Linked DNA regions of Homo sapiens: region 2 is linked to region 1. The links come from fine-mapping of genetic effects on gene expression. Tissue or cell type: esophagus muscle. Region 1 holds a variant in brackets; the other region holds the start of a gene. All regions are shown on one strand. Distances are between the middles of the regions.

Evidence for each region. PIP is the estimated chance that this variant, and not a neighbour inherited with it, causes the effect.
Region 2: it holds the start of SLC16A12, and the variant in region 1 is fine-mapped to the expression of SLC16A12 in esophagus muscle (GTEx, PIP above 0.99).

What each region holds. Positions count from the first base shown.
Region 1 is chr10:89,506,896-89,515,094 of GRCh38, forward strand. The region is part of intron 2 of SLC16A12 (solute carrier family 16 member 12); the gene reads right to left. Among named protein-coding and RNA genes, the nearest start is that of SLC16A12, 25 kb to the right of the region's middle. The variant G/A (reference allele first, on the strand shown) is at 3,235.
Region 2 is chr10:89,532,112-89,540,279 of GRCh38, forward strand. It overlaps SLC16A12 (solute carrier family 16 member 12), which reads right to left and starts at 3,483. Exons shown (of 8, transcript NM_213606.4): 1 at 3,331-3,483; 2 at 2,390-2,529. RefSeq lists an enhancer at 1,750-2,649.

The DNA of each region.
Region 1 (8,199 bases):
CTGAAAAACGCAGCATAAGAACTTAGTGAAGCATACACAAGCTTCAATAGCCAAAGTGATCAAGCAGAAGAAAGGATATCAGTGATTGAAGACCAAATTAATGAAATAAAGCAAGAAGACAAGATTAGAGAAAAAAGAGTGAAAAGAAATGAAAAAACCCTCCAAGAAATATGGGACTATGTGAAAAGACCAAATCTACATTTGATTGGTGTACCTGAAAGTGACGGGGAGAATGGAACCAAGTTGGAAATCACTCTTCAGGATATTATCCAGAACTTCCCCAACATAGCAAGGCAGGCCAACATTCAAATTCAGGAAATACAGAGAACACCACAGAGATATTCCTCGAGAAGAGCAACCCCAAAACACAAAATCATCAGACTCACCAAGGTTGAAATGAAGGAAAAAATGTTAAAGGCAGCCAGAGAGAAAGGTCGGATTACCCACAAAGGGAAGCCCATCAGACTAACAGCAGATCTCTCAGCAGAAACCCTACAAGCCAGAAGGGAGTGGGGGCCAATATTCAACATTCTTAAAGAAAAGAATTTTCCACCCAGAATTTCATATCCAGCCAAACTAAGCTTCATAAGTGAAGAAGAAATAAAATTCTTTACAGACAAGCAAAGGCTGAGAGATTTTGTCATCACCAGGCCTGCCATAATTACAAGAGCTCCTGAAGGAAGCACTAAACATGGAAAGGAACAACCGGCATCAGCCACTGCAAAAACATGCCAAATTGTGAAGACCATCAACACTATGAAGAAACTGCATCAACTAACAGGCAAACTAACCAGCTAGCATCATAATGACAGGATCAAATTCACACATAACAATATTAACCTCAAATGTAAATGGGCTAAATGCCCCCAATTAAAAGACACAGACTGGCAATTGGATAAAGAGTCAAGATCCATCAGTGCACTGTATTCAGGAGACTCATCTCACATGCAAAGACACATATAGGCTCAAAATAAAGGGATGGAGGAAGATCTACCAAGCAAATGGAAAGCGAAAAAAAGCAGGGTTTGCAATCCTAGTCTCTGATAAAATAGATTTTAAACCAATAAAGATCAAAAGAGACAAAGAAGGCCATTACATAATGGTAACGGGATCAATCGACAAGAAGAGATAACTATCCTAACTATATATGCATCCAAACAGGAGCACCCAGATTCATAAAGCAAGTATTTAGAGACCTACAAAGAGACTTAGACTCCCACACAGCAATAGTGGGAGACTTTAACACCCCACTATCAATATTAGACAGATCAATGAGACAGAAAATTAACAAGGATATCCAGGACTTAAACTCAGCTCTGGACCAAGTGGACTTAATAGACATCTACAGAACTCTCCACTCCAAATCAATAGAATATACATTCTTCTCAGCACCACATCACACTTATTCCAAAATTGACCACATAGTTGGAAGTAAAACACTCTTCAGCAAATGTAAAAGAACAGAAATCACAATAAACTGTTTCTCAGACCACAGTGCAATCAAATTAGAACTCAGGATTAAGAAACTCACTCAAAACTGCACAGCTACATGGAAACTGAACAACCTGCTCCTGAATGACTACTGGGTAAATAACGAAATGAAGGCAGAAATAAAGATGTTCTTTGAAACCAATGAGAAAAAAGACACAACATACCAGAATCTCTGGGACACATTTAAAGCAGTGTGTAGAAGGAAATTTATAGCACTAAATGTCCACAAGAGAAAGCAGGAAAGATCTAAAATCGACACCCTAACATCACAATTAAAAGAACTAGAGAAGCAAGAGCAAACAAATTCAAAAGCTAGCAGAAGGCAAGAAATAACTAAAATCAGAGCAGAACTGAAAGAGATAGAGACACAAAAAACCCTTCAAAAAAAATCAATGAATGCAGGAGCTGGTTTTTTGAAAAGATCAATAAATAGATAGACTGCTAGCCAGACTAATAAAGAAGAAAAGAGACAAGAATCAAATAGACAGAATAAAAAATGATAAAGGGGATGTCACCACCAATTTCTGTGTATTGTCATTACACAGAAATACAAACTACCATCAGAGAATACTATGAACACCTCTACACAAATAAACTAGAAAATCTAGAAGAAATGGACAAATTCCTGGAAACATACACCCTCCCAAGACTAAACCAGGAAGAAGTCAAATCTCTAAATAGACCAATAACAGGCTCTGAAATTAAGGCAATAATTAATAGCCTACCAACCAAAAAAAGTCCAGGACCAGACAGATTCACAGCCGAATTCTACCAGAGTTATAAAGAGGAGCTGGTACCATTCCTTCTGAAACTATTCCAATCAATAGAAAAAGAGGGAATCCTCCCTTACTCATTTTATGAGGCCAGCATCATCCTGATACCAAAACCTAGCAGACACAACAAAAAAATAGAATTTTAGACCAATATCCCTGACGAACATCAACGTGAAAATTCTCAATAAAATACTGGCAAACCGAATCCAGTGGCACATCAAAAAGCTTATCCGCCATGATTAAGTTGGCTTCATCCCTTGGATGCAAGGCTGGTTCAACATATGCAAATCAATAAATGTAATCCATCACATAAACAGAACCAACAACAAAAACTACATTATCTTGATATTTGCAAAAAAGGCCTTTGACAAAATTTAGCAGCTCTTCATGCTAAAAATTCTCAATAAACTAGGTATTGATGAAACATATCTCAAAATAATAAGAGCTATTTATGACAAACCTACAGCCAATATCATACTGAATGAGCAAAAACTGGAAGCATTCCCTTTTAAAACTGGCACAAGACAAGGATGCCCTCTCTCACCACTCCTTTTCAACATAGTATTGGAAGTTCTGCCCAGGGCCATCAGGCAAAAGAAAGAAATAAAGGGTATTCAGTCAGGAAAACAGGAAGTCAAATTGTCTCCATTTGCAGATGACATAATTGTATATTTAGAAAACCCCATCATCTCAGCCCCAAATCTCCTTAAGCTGATAAGCAACTTCAGCAAAGTCTCAGGATACAAAATCAGTGTGCAAAAATCACAAGCATTCCTATACACCGATAACAGACAGAGAGCCAATTCGTGAGTGAACTCCCATTCACAATTGCTACAAAGAGAATAAAATACCTAGGAATCCAACTAACAAGGGGTGTGAAGGACCTCTTCAAGGAGAACTACAAACTGCTCAATGAAATAAAAGAGGACACAAACAAATGAAAGAACATTCCATGCTCATGGATAGGAAG[G/A]ATCAATATCGTGAAAATGGCCATACAGCCCAAAGTAATTTATAGAGTCAATGCTATCCCCATCAAGCTACCACTGACTTTCTTCACAGAATTGGAAAAAACTACTTTAAATTGCATATGGAACCATAAAAGAGCCTGCATAGCCAAGACAATCCTAACCCAAAAGAATAAAGCTGGAGGCATCCTGCTACCTGACTTCAAACCATACTACAAGGCTACAGTAACCAAAACAGCATGGTACTGGTACCAAAACAGGTATACAGACAAATGGAACGGAACAGAGGCCTCAGAAATAACACCACACATCTACAACCATCTGATCTTTGACAAACCTGACAAAAACAAGCAAGGGAGGAAGGATTCCCTATTTAAATGGTGCTGGGAAAACTGGCTAGCCATATGGGGAAAGTTGAACCTGGATCCGTTCCTTACACCTTATACAAAAATTAACTCAAGATGGATAAAAGATTTAAATGTAAGACTTAAAACCATAAAAACCCTAGAAGAAAACCTAGGCAATACCATTCAGACATAGGCCTGGGCAAAGACTTCACGACTAAAACACCAAAAGCAATGGCAAGAAAAGCCAAAATAGACAAATGAGATCTAATTAAACTAAAGAGCTTCTGCACAGCAAAAGAAACTATCAGCAGAGTGAACAGGCAACCTACAGAATGGGATAAAATTTTTGAAATCTATCCATCTGACAAAGGGCTAATATCCAGAATCTACAAATAATTTATACAAATTTACAAGAAAAAAACAAACAACCCCATCAAAATGGGCCAAGGATATGGACAGACATTTCTCAAAAGAAGACATTTATGCAGCCAACAAACTTATAAAAAAATACTCATCATCACTGGTCATTAGAGAAATGCAAATCAAAACCTCAATGAGATACCATCTCACACCAGTTAGAATGGTGATCATTAAAAAGTCAGGAAACAACAGATGCTGGAGAGGATGTAGAGAAATAGAAACGCTTTTACACTGTTGGTGGGAGCGTAAATTAGTTCAACCATTGTGGAAGACAGTGTGGTGACTCCTCAAGGATCTAGAATTAGAAATACCATTTGATCCAGCAATCCCATTACTGGGTATATACCCAAAGGATTATAAATCATTCTACTGTAAAGGCACATGCACACGTATGTGTATTGCAGCACTATTCACAATAGCAAAGTCTTGATACCAACCCAAATGCCCATCAATGATAGACTGGATAAAGAAAATGTGGCACATATACACCATGGAATACTATGCAGCCATAAAAAGGATGAGTTCATGTCCTTTGCAGGGACATGGATGAAACTGGAAACCCATCATTCTCAGCAAAGTAACACAAGAAGAGAAAACCAAATGCTGCATGTTCTCACTCATAAGTGGGAGTTGAGCAATGAGAACACATGGACACAGGGAGGTGAACATCACACACCAGGGCCTGTCGGAGGGTGGAGGGGCTGGGGGAGGGGATAGCATTAGGAGAAATACTTAATGTAAATGACGAGTTGATGGGTGCAGCAAACCAACATGGCACATGTATACCTCTGTAACAAACCTGCATGATGTGCACATGTACCCCGAACTTAAAGTATAATAATAATAAACAAATAAAATTTAAAAACAAACAACAATTAAAAACAGAATTGCCATACAATCCAGCAATTCCACTTTCAGATATATACCCAAAAGAATTAAAAGCCAGGACTCAAACAAATGTTTGTACACCCATGTTCATAGACACATTATTAACAATAGCCCCAAAGAGGAAGCAACCCAAATGTTCATTAATAGATGAATGGATAGGCAAAATGTGGCACATAATGGATTACGCAGCCTTATAAAGGAAGGACATTCTGATATATACTACACAATAAATGAAGCCTGAAGACATTATGCTAAGTGAAAAAGCTAGTCACAAAACTACAAACATTGTATGATTCCACTTACGTGAGGTCCTTAGGGTAGTCAAACTCATAGACACAAAAAGTAGAATGGTGGTTGCCAGGGCCTGACGGAGAGCAGAAAGGGGAGTTAGTATTTAATGGGCACAGAGTTTCAGTATGGGAAGATGAAAAAGTTCTGGAGATGGATGGTGGTGATTAATACACAACAATGCGAATGGTGAACATACTTCTGACATAGTGAGAAATATTTGGTCTCTGCGCTCCCCATCATAAGGAATTTTAAGAAAACTTCAAATCTTGTAGGTGATGTTTCTTTTTGCACACTAATGAGATGACTAGTGTCTGCAGGCTCCTGGGCAGCCTCAGGTTGGAGGATGTTTGCAGAGAAGCCAAACTTGTGATTAGAGGGTTGGAACTTTCTGCCCCAACCCAAGCCACCCTTGACCTTAGGGGAAGGAATAGGGCCTGAAGATTGACTTAACCACCAATGGTTAATGATTATTGCCTATGCAATTATGCCTCCATTAAAACCCAAAAGGACAGTGTTCAGAGAGCCTCCAAGCTGGTGAACAAGAATGCATCCACAAGCCAAAGGTCCAGTAAGAGAGAAGCTTGGGAATCTCCCGGACCTTGCCCTACGTACCTCTTCATCTGGCTGTTCATCTGTATCTTTCAATATATCCTTTGTAATAAACTGCTAATCTAGTAAGTAGATTGGTTTTCTGAGTTCTGTGAGCCATTCTAGCAAAAGATCGAACCCAAGAGGGGGTTGGAACCTCTGATTTAAAGCAGGTTGGGTCAAAGTATGGGTGCCAACCAGGACGTGGAATTGGCATCTGAAGTGGGGGCTGTCTTATGGGATGGAGTCCTTAATCTGTGGGATCTGCTATCTCCAGGTAGATAGTTTCAGAACTGAGTTAAATTGCAGGACACCTAGGTGGTATCTGTAGAGAACTGGAGGACTACTCAGTGTGGAAAACCCCATACCTTTGATGTCAAAGTTTTCTCAAGTATTGAGAATAGACTAGACAGGAAAACAGTTTGTTTTTCCTATTGAGTACTTAATGACACAGAATTGTACCCTTAATAATGGTTAAAATGGTAAATTTTATGTTATGTACACTTAACCATAATTTAAAAAAAAATGAAACCGCGATCATTTAATCTATATTGCTCTTTTCACATAATGATACCATGGATGTATACTTATGTTAATAAATGTACTCTGTCTGATCATTTTAATGGTTGCAAAGTATTTGATTGTTTGAATGCACTGTAACTGACTTCACCAATCCCCTCTTGTTGGACAGTTACGTTGTCTCTGATTTCTCTCTCCCAAAAAGATGTGTGATTCAATCATGTGACATATCAGGTCACACTGCATTCCTGATGGTTCTTCCTTTGGACTCACTGTGGTCATTCACAAATATTTTGAAAATCTGACACTAAAATTAGAGAATATCATATTTCCTCACCATTAAAAATATTTATTTACCACTTGCATCTGTAATGAATTAATAACAAATATAATGATTAATACTTAATATATTTATAAAATGTATACCTTGAAACATCACAGAAGATAAAAAGTTAGACTTGTTACTAATCAAATGTGACTTGATGGGTAAAAATCAAAATATTTAGCAAGAGACTGATAACACTGAGAAATCAGAGACCAGTAGAACAAGGGACTAGTCAGACCAGTGCCCACCAGCTGACAATTAGCCCTGACCCCAAAGAAACCATTTAAACCAGGAGTATGTGGTTAAATGGGCATTCTTAAGTAAAACTTTCTGGAAAGGTCCTATATTTTGTTGGTTGCTCAAAGAAGGAGAGGCATATATGGGAAAAAAGAAGTCAGATTCTGGATGGATAAAAGTGTGATATCCCTGTGAGACCTCTAAGTGGACCTGTTAGATGAACTGGTCAAGAGCCTAGGAGAGAGATCTAGTGTCCAGATGTATACTTGGAGATCAGATCATTCAGTTGATAACTGAAATCCTAAAGAGCAGGGCTTCTCAGATTTTCCTAGGTACCACCTGCTAAATGGCGGATTCAGATTTGGCAGATTTGGGTGGAATCTGAAATTCACATTTCTGACAAGCTCACAAGTGACGCCTTCACTGGTCTACAGACCGTAAGAGTAGCAAGGTGCCTTGCAGGTAGGTGGAAGAAGAAAGAGATTAGGAAGGGTTAGGAAAAGAGGCGGTTGCAAGGAAATTGAGAAAGTGTGGCCAGAAAGATAAAGAGCAGTCCAGGAGAGCTTGGTGTCACTGAAGTCAAATAAGAAAGAAATGATACTATCAGAGGACTGTGTATGTCTTAGCTCAGGCTGCTATAACAAAATACCATAGGCTGGTGGCTTAAGCAATAGACATTTTTCTTACAGTTCTGGAGGTTGGATGTCTGAGAACAGAGTGCCAGCATGCTTGGGTTCTGGTGAAGGCACTCTTCCTGGCCTGTAGACAATGGCCCTCTGGCTGTGTGCTTGCTTACATGGCCCTTCTCAGAGCATGTATGGGGAGAGACAGATTTTTCTCTCTTCCTGTTCTCATCAGGACACTAATTTCATCATGAAGACTCCATCCTTGTGACTTCATCTAAACCTAATCACTTCTCAAAGGCCCCACTTCCAAATACCATCACATTGGGGGTGACAATGTTTCCTCAATGTTTACAGGGCTTAAACATAAATCTGGGTTGACATGACCCATCAATCCACAATAGTGCCCACTGTACTTTGTAGAGATGAAAAGGAGCGGGCCGGGTGCGCGGGTGCAGTGGCTCATGCCTGTAATCCCAGCACTTTGGGAGGCCAAGGCAGGGGGATCACCTGAGGTCAGGAGTTCGAGACCAGCCTGGCCAACATGGTGAAACCTCGTCTCTACTAAAAATACAAAAAATTAGCCAGTCATAGTGGCATGCACCTATAATCCCAGCTACTTGGGAGGCTGAGGCAGGAGAATTGCTTGAACCCAGGAGGCAGAGGTCACAGTGAGCCGAGATTTCACCACTGCACTTTAGCCTTGGCAACAGAGCAAGACTTCATCTCAAA
Region 2 (8,168 bases), 25 kb after region 1:
ATAAGAAGTAGAAGTTCAATAAATATTCATTAAATTAATAAATGAATGAGCACACTAATTAAATAATTAATTAATTTCATGCAACATCTTACCTGGCTACAGCAATTAACCCTACTCGTCAATGCGCGGTAAATGAAGGAAGGATATGTATCTGATGGGGCACAGTGGTGGGTGAATGAAGAAAAAAAAATCAGCTACTCCAGGTGCCTAGCATGCATCAGAAATTGTGACTGTTCCCCAAATGTTCAACAGACACCACCTTCAAACAGGACATTGTTAGATAATGACACTTTCTGATGTCCTTTGATGTAGAGCACATTAAAAATATTATCAGAGGGAAAATCTTTCTGTTCAAAATCCCCCAACCTCTTCAACTGTGTATTTAGTTTTCATCAATTAAATTATTATATCATTTCAATGGGTGACTTTTTATATACACTGGAAAGGTACTCATAAGAAAATAGCTTCCAAATTGGCAATTTTTAAAAGCAAAGCAACTGGTTAGGTGAGGAATGCATAAACAACCCCAAAAGCGGCACTGAATACTTTTCTTTGGCTGTATACGACTGAAAAACTGCCAAGTTCATTTCGATAAGCCTTTGTTAAAAACAATAAACATGCCTGAGCTTGCAAACTATGCTGTTTTGAAGAAAAAGCAATTGAGAGAATTAGAAAATGCTTAAAACTGGAATGTCTAATAGTCTATGAATATGGAGGAAAGTGGGGGACAAAATGTAAAGTGAGACAAAATAACAACAGAACACCATCTTCATAAATAAATAAAAAGCAACATCTTATAAACTAATTTAATTAGTCTCCAATACTAACATGGTACCACTAACACTCTTAAGAAAACAAATCATCCCGTGCTTCAAGTTTAGTCACCAAGGTGATCTCCCTGCAATAAAGGAAATGTAATTTCATTGACTCCAAATGAACATATATTAAATAACCAAATGTGGGAACTGCAATTCACTTACAGTAAAATGTCAGCTCATAAAAGTCAAAGTAACTTCACCTGAATTTGTTTTTTTGTTGTTGTTGTTGTCGTTTTTAGTTTTTTTTTTTTCCATGATTATAAGATTCTCAGAATTGCAGGATTGGAAGGAAGATAGTTTGGATCACTTATGTTTATTTTCCTGCTTAGGTAAAACTGAAATTCTCTTGTACCTGCCTAAGAAATCCTGGAAAAATTCTAGTGAATAAATTGCAACTTGAGCTCTATAGGATCAAAGTTCTTTGTTTTGTTCATTGACATATCCCAAATGCCCAGAACAGCACTAGGCATACAGTAGGCACTCAATAAATATCTGCTCAATTGAACTAAATTGAAAAATATGCAGTGCAATGCAATGTTAAATAAGTCACTTTGAAACTCCTTTCTTAGCTTTGTTTTGGTCATAGTATTAATCACAATAAACAAACAGTCCTCATATAAAACACTTCAACACTATAATTCATGTTTTTACTTCTGATCGATCATTACCATAGAGGGTGCTGAGAATCAGAAAAGACTCCAAGGAAAGATGGGGGTAGAGTTACTCCCATCTATTTGGACTAATTTTCTTCTTCTGGGCATTCACCTGAGAAGTATCTGTATATCCATAATATAAAAATAATTTAAAATATTACTTAAAATTAAAGGTTTGCACCTTTAAAAATTGTGCCACAAAAGCAATTTGATTAAATCAACCTCTCATCTATTTCAGAATCCCATCAGTTAAAAAAAAAAAACATAAAAAATAAGAACAGGAAAATGATGTGATTAGGTGATGCTAGTCATATTATTTTTGCTCAAAATGCCTAGAGGCAATATGCCTTGGAAAACTGAGTTAGGTGGGAATGAGAAGATCTGGATTCTAGTGTTGATTCCATCACCAGTTAACAGTATGAATTCAGCCAATCCTTGCCAATCTGGATCTGAGCTTCCTGGGCTGTAACGTGAAGAGTTTGAATTTAGTAGATGGTCTCCAAAGCCTTTCAGTTTCAAAGTTTCTCTAAACCCTGTAATTATAAGTGACTAAATCCAGTTCACCTAATTACTACCACTACTCTTTTACATCCTTCATTTCTTCAGCAAACATCCGGTCACCTTGGGGGCGCAGGGGGTGGAGGATGTCAAACACCATTAGCCACAGTTTGGCACGACATTTATGGAGGGGGAGCGACAAACAATGCAAGGGCAGCTAGCTGATGATTTTAACTGTTAGCGAGCTTACACCTGTGGAGCGAATGTGTTTCTGAATTTGAAAGGCCGGAAGATTTTCCCCCTGGGCTAAGCTGGTGACGCCGCGGGAGTGCCTAGCTCTGAGCAAAGAACCAGGTAGGATGAACTAATTAGAGGCTCTTCAAAAGGAGAGTGTTTAACCAGTTTCCTGGCAGGACTCACCTGACTAGACATTTTTAAAAATTATGGCCAGGCACGGTGGCTCACGCCTGTAATCCCATCACTTTGGGAGGCTAAAGCGGGCAGATCGCTTGAGCCCAGGAGCTCGAGAGCAAACCGGCCAATATGTCGAAATCCTGTATCTGCAAAAAAAAAAAAAAAAAAAAAAAAAAATCCAAAAATTAGCCGGGCGTGGTGGCGCGCACCTTTAGTCCCAGCTACTCCAGATGCTGGGGAGGGAGGATCGTTGGAGCCGGGGAGGCGGAGGTTGCAATGAGCTGAGATCGCGCCACTGCACTCCAGCCTGGGCGACAGAGCGAGACCTTGTCTCTAAATAAATAAATAGTATAAGAGGTTTAGAATGCTGATGTGTGAAAACGGAAGACTAACCAAATAGCCCCAGGACTTACTGAAATTGTGCTTCAAAATTTTGTTACGAACGCTTTTCCGAGTCCACAATACAGGTATCACTGGTTTATTTGTGGACAAGAAGCAACTGAGAAATTGAGTTCAATCCACTGAAAGCCGGTGTGTTTTTAATATAGCACACACGGGAAATAAATATTATTGTCTGAGGTGGGGGACGGGGAGAGATTTTTAAAATGTACTATAAACATAAAATCCAGAAGAAAGATGGTCTCTATTCCACCGAGAAGTCTGCATTTGAAAACCACAAGAGATGGAGATCAAAGCCGCTCGTTCTCCAGCCACCTGCCCAAAAACTCGGCCGCAGCGCAGACCCAACCCAGACAGGGCAAGTGAGCACGTGTCTCCCTCCCAACCCAAGCTGCGCGCCGACGCACCCAAGTTAGGGTCCCAGGCTCCCGGCGCGGGATGGGCGCTAGGGCAGCGGAGAATGGAGGGTCCCCGTCCTCCTCCAGCTCCAACGACAGCGCCAGCGCCCCGCCGTCCCGCCGCCCTTCCTTGAAGGATGCCCGTGTCACCTGAGCCACCGCGCCCTCTGCACAACCGTGTCAGGGAGAGGGAAGAGGGGGAGCCGAGGAAGCTTCTTGGCCAGGGCGCTGGGGATCCGGGAGCGGGGGCCGCCGGCGAGACTGAGCCCGGGACAGCCCAGAGCTCCAGCGCTCCAGCGCTCTGCAGCCCGCCCAGAGCGCGCAGACCACCCCCATGCCCCGCCCGCCCTCCTGCCACACCCGCCCCCAGCCCGGCCCCGCCGCCTCCTCACCTCGCCGGGACCACTGCAGCCCTGGCGGTAGCGCGCGGACATGCCCCCGGGGCGCACCCGCCGAGCCGCGTCCCTGCGCAGTGGCCCCTTCCCGGGCCCCAGGCTGCGCGATCCGCGCTTCGGTGGGGCGGGGAGCGGACTGGGCGGAGGCGCCGGCGAGGCTGGGGCCGGGGGCCTAGCTGGCAACGCCGGGAGAGGGAAGCGTAGCGCGGAAAATCCCAGTGCTCGGCCTTCGAAATGCACCGGCTCATTCAGCCCCGCCAGCTCCGCCGGGGACTCTGCCTGGCCGGCAAAGAGGATTTAGCGCGGGGATCCGCTCTAAGTACTGTGGCTTGGCTAGGGGCGAGGGGCGCAGCGGAGGAGGGACGTCTCGCGGTTATGTAATGCACCGGCTTTCTGTGTCCCCAGCCAAACCGCTCTAGGACTGCCGGACCCTCCCCGGGAAGAGCCATGACCCCTGACCTCGGCAAGCCGAGGGGAGCTCGGTGTTCCCAAAAAGAACTTTTCCCCTCAGGGTCAAAGAGCAAGATCTCGAGAAAAAATACAAGGCCTCCTTTAGGTGTATCTGGCAGGGATCCGGACCCTGCTAGCCAATCCTTCCCATTTCACAGCACAGGAAACTGAAGCTCCAGAATGCTAGTGAAAAGCGTTATCTCTTGGAGTCAAAAGGACCTGGGTTCAACGCATCTGAAAATCTCATAACCTTGGGCAATTTAACTCTCTGAGCCTCACTTTTGCTTGTAAAACAAAGGATGATAGCGCCCACTTCATGTTGTTGCTGCGAGTATGAAATGAGTGAGGTGTAGGCGCCCGGTACATAATACAATTCCCCAAACGTTGACTCAAAGCCTGAAAAGGGAGCTGCCAGGACGTACCCCACGTAGGACAGGTTCCAGGCGAACTTTCTGTAAAGTCCTCTCCTTGTCAGAAGCAAGGCCTCTGAACTGACAAGGTCTGGTTCCAATATCTTGGAGCCTACGTCCTCACTTCTTCAAGAGTGGCCCGTAGACCAACAGCGAGGTCATCACCTGGGTGCTTGTTAAAAATGCGGAATCTCAGGCCCAACCGCGGATCAGAATCTGCATTTTTTGCAAGATTCCCTGGTGATTTCGCTGTATGTCAAAATTTCAAAATGAATTAGGCTTTTTGGAATTATTATTATTATTATTTTTGAGAAGCAGTCTCGCTCTGTCGCCCAGGCTGGAGTGCAGTGGTGCGATTTTGGCTCACTGCAACCTCCGCCTCCCTAGTTCAAACGATTCTCCTGCCTCAGCTTCCGGAGTAGCTGGGATTACGGGCGCGTGCCACCACGCCCAGCTAATTTTTTGTATCTTTGGTAGAGACGGGATTTCACCATGTTGGCCAGGCTGATCTCGAACTCCTGACCTCATGATCTGCCCGACAAAGAGTTACTGATGAACAGTAGGGAGCATTTGCCACGCAGCAAGGCACCGTAGGTATGTTTTTTTTTTTTTTTTTTTTGGGAAGGAGTCTCGTTTTGTTTGTTTTCTAAAGAAGGGATTTCACTATGTCGCTAAGGCTAGAGTGCTGTGGTGCGATCATAGCTCATTGCAGTCTCGAACTCCTAGGCTCAAGGGATCCTCCTGCCTCAGCCTCCCCAAGCACTGGGATTACAGGCTTGAGCCACTGTGCAAGCCAGGGGTTTTTTTAAATAGTCTAGTATAGTCCTTTCTCATTTTACCCTCTGGCTATTTTTAGTCATCCCCCTCCTCTCAGTTTCCTGCCCTTTAACTATAAATCTGAATTTAAGTCCTATTTTCACTTGCAAAAAACCCTAGGTTAGATTTAAGTGATGATTAGTGAATAAATGTTCAAAACTCACAAAAGAAAGAACAAATACAGCTTGTAAAAGAATTCATTAGCATTGAAAATGAACCTGTAAATGTAGAGGCTGCCATGAGTGAGCCCTGACCTCTCAGCCGTGAAGGTCTTTAGGTTAAAGGCTTGAATACCTTTGAGTTTCAGAAAAATGCTTCTTTCAGTTAAACATTGCTTTGGGTGGCAAATAAGTCTCACTTTCCATTTAAATAATGTAGGACAACAGTTTTTAAAGTTTTGGAGACTAGGACACCGCACAAGGCTTCCTTTCGTCTAAGTCACCACTTACAGGGGGCTCTAGCAAAGACCAAAGCTAATACTGTGTTTATTCTATTCAATGCTGTGTCACTGATGTTGTTGTTTCATTAGAAGTTCAGATTTTGTGTGTCTGATTCTATCTCTGGCAGGATGATTTTCATCCTTTACGAGTTCAGTAACTGTGGGTTGATGATGGTGATGGTGAGTGCAATGCGTATAGGCAGTGCCGGATACAGACGGGTCACTTCTGTGTGCCTACCCCTTTGGGGTTCCACGCTCAAGACCTGACATAGCTGCTGACAGGCAGCATGGAAGTGGAGAAAGGGAGATGCACAAAGCAAAACAATCTCCTTTCACTGAGGCTGGAGGATTGGGGGTGGAGAATGTTGGACTGCTATCGCTGTGCAGAAGAAAAGCAAAGCAAAGGAACCCTAGAATCCAACCTAGGAGGAAAGGGAAGGAGCAACATTTCTTCCAAATAGCACTGTCCAACAGAATTTTCTACAGTGATGGAAATGTGCTATGTTTGCACAGTCCCAACACGGCTATAAAATATGGCTATTTACATTTTAGTTAATTAATTATAATCGTAATTAAAATTGAGGTTTCTTGTGTGTGTTTTGCTTTTTTCTTTTTTACTACTAGTCTGTTGCACTAATCACCTTTCAAGTGCTTCACTCCAAGATGTGGCTAATGTCTACCATACTGGATAGCACTCAAAACGTTTTCTTCATCACAGAAAGTTCTACTGGACAGTGACGCTTAGAGGCCAGGATTTTGGTAAAGAAATGAGCCCAGATACCCAGCTTTTCCAAGTCATAGTCAGAACTTCATCTGTCTAAAAGCAAGTAATAGAATGAAAATTAAACCTACATCGAGGCTTTGTGATAATCAAAATGAGTTAATCTATAGAATGTATTTAATTCAATGCCTTGCATATTATACATGTGTAAAAAATATTAATCCTTATTAGTATTAATAGTCTTTTACCTTAAAAATATTGGGGAATGACAAAGATTTTTTTCCTTGGCCAAACTTTAGTCAGGCTCCTGAACTTTCTCCTAAGACCATGTGTGTATTTCCTTGTAAATTCCAGTTTATCAAAGAACCCGGCAAAATCAGTTTGGCAATAACGTCCCTTCCCATTGACAACTGATCACCCAAGGGTTCCTCATCCTCCACTGTCCTCCAGGTGATATCTAATCACCTTGGCCTGTCTTTAGTAAGAATCCTGTTAGGTCGATTTAACTAGAGTCCCATATCCTGTTTCTTGGCTATAAATTCCGATTTTCCTCTGCTGTATTCATAGTGGAGCCCCATCTCTCTACCCTACTGCAAGTCTTCGTTGTAGTGGTCCCTGTATCTGTCTCAATGGTCCTGAATAGTCTTCTTTACCATGCTGTAACAAGTGACATTGAATATTTTTTTTCTTTAATAGGGACATGGCATTAATGGTACATCATTATTAGTTAAGTAACCTTTCGCTGATGTGGTCAGCTGATCTGGTACCTCCACATGCATTAATAGTTGTGTTCTAACTTTCTCCCTTCCTCTTCTTCCCTACTCAGAATTGAGTACTATTTGTACTTTTCTGGCCTGGAGGCACAGAATATTTTGTCAAATCCCTACCATTTGTAGCCAATAAATAACACGTGTGTTAACTAAAATCCTATTGCACCATGGTTCAGTGGAATTAATTTTCAGATAGGATTCTGAGAAGCCTGACACCTTAGGGTACATCCATTATGAAAAGAATTGTTTGTTCCTGTTATTTGGTCAAACAAGAATGTGTGGACTCAGTACAGAAAAAAAGGGAACATTGGCTACAGATAAGTAATATTTGGGGTGTCCAGGTCAAGATAGAAGCTACTGGAAGGTTGGGGGTTGAGGATGAAACCTTAAGGCTTTTGCCTAAATAGAATTTGAAATTTTGTTCTCATGACTAATTAAGATTTTAGGACTAAATACAAACAGCATAAATAAGATGCAAGTATTTTACGTAGTCAGCTGTACAGATTAGGGCAATACATGGACAAGGAAATAGTGAAATTCTTCCTTAGACACCAAGAAACAAATTTTTCTTTCTTTCTTTCTTTCTTTCTTTCTTTCTTTCTTTCTTTCTTTCTTTCTTTTTTCTTTTTTTCTTTCTTTCATTACTTCCTTCTTTCTCTTTCTTTCTTCTTTCTTTCTTTCTCTCTTTCTTTCTTTCTTTTCTCTCACCCTTCCTTCCTTCTTTCCTTCCTTCCTTCCTTTCTTTTCTCTGGCTCTCTCTTTTTTCTTCCTTTCCTTCTTTCTTTGCCTCTTTTTCTTTCTTTCTTTCTTCTTTTGTTGCTTCTGAGACAGAGCCTCACTCTGTCACCCAGGTTGGAGTGCAGTGGCATCGTCACAGTTCACTGCAGCCTTGATTACCTAGGTTCAAGAGATCCTCCCACCTCAGCCTCCCAAGTAGCTGGGACTACAGCCACCCACCACCATGCCTGGCTAGTTTTTGTATTTTTT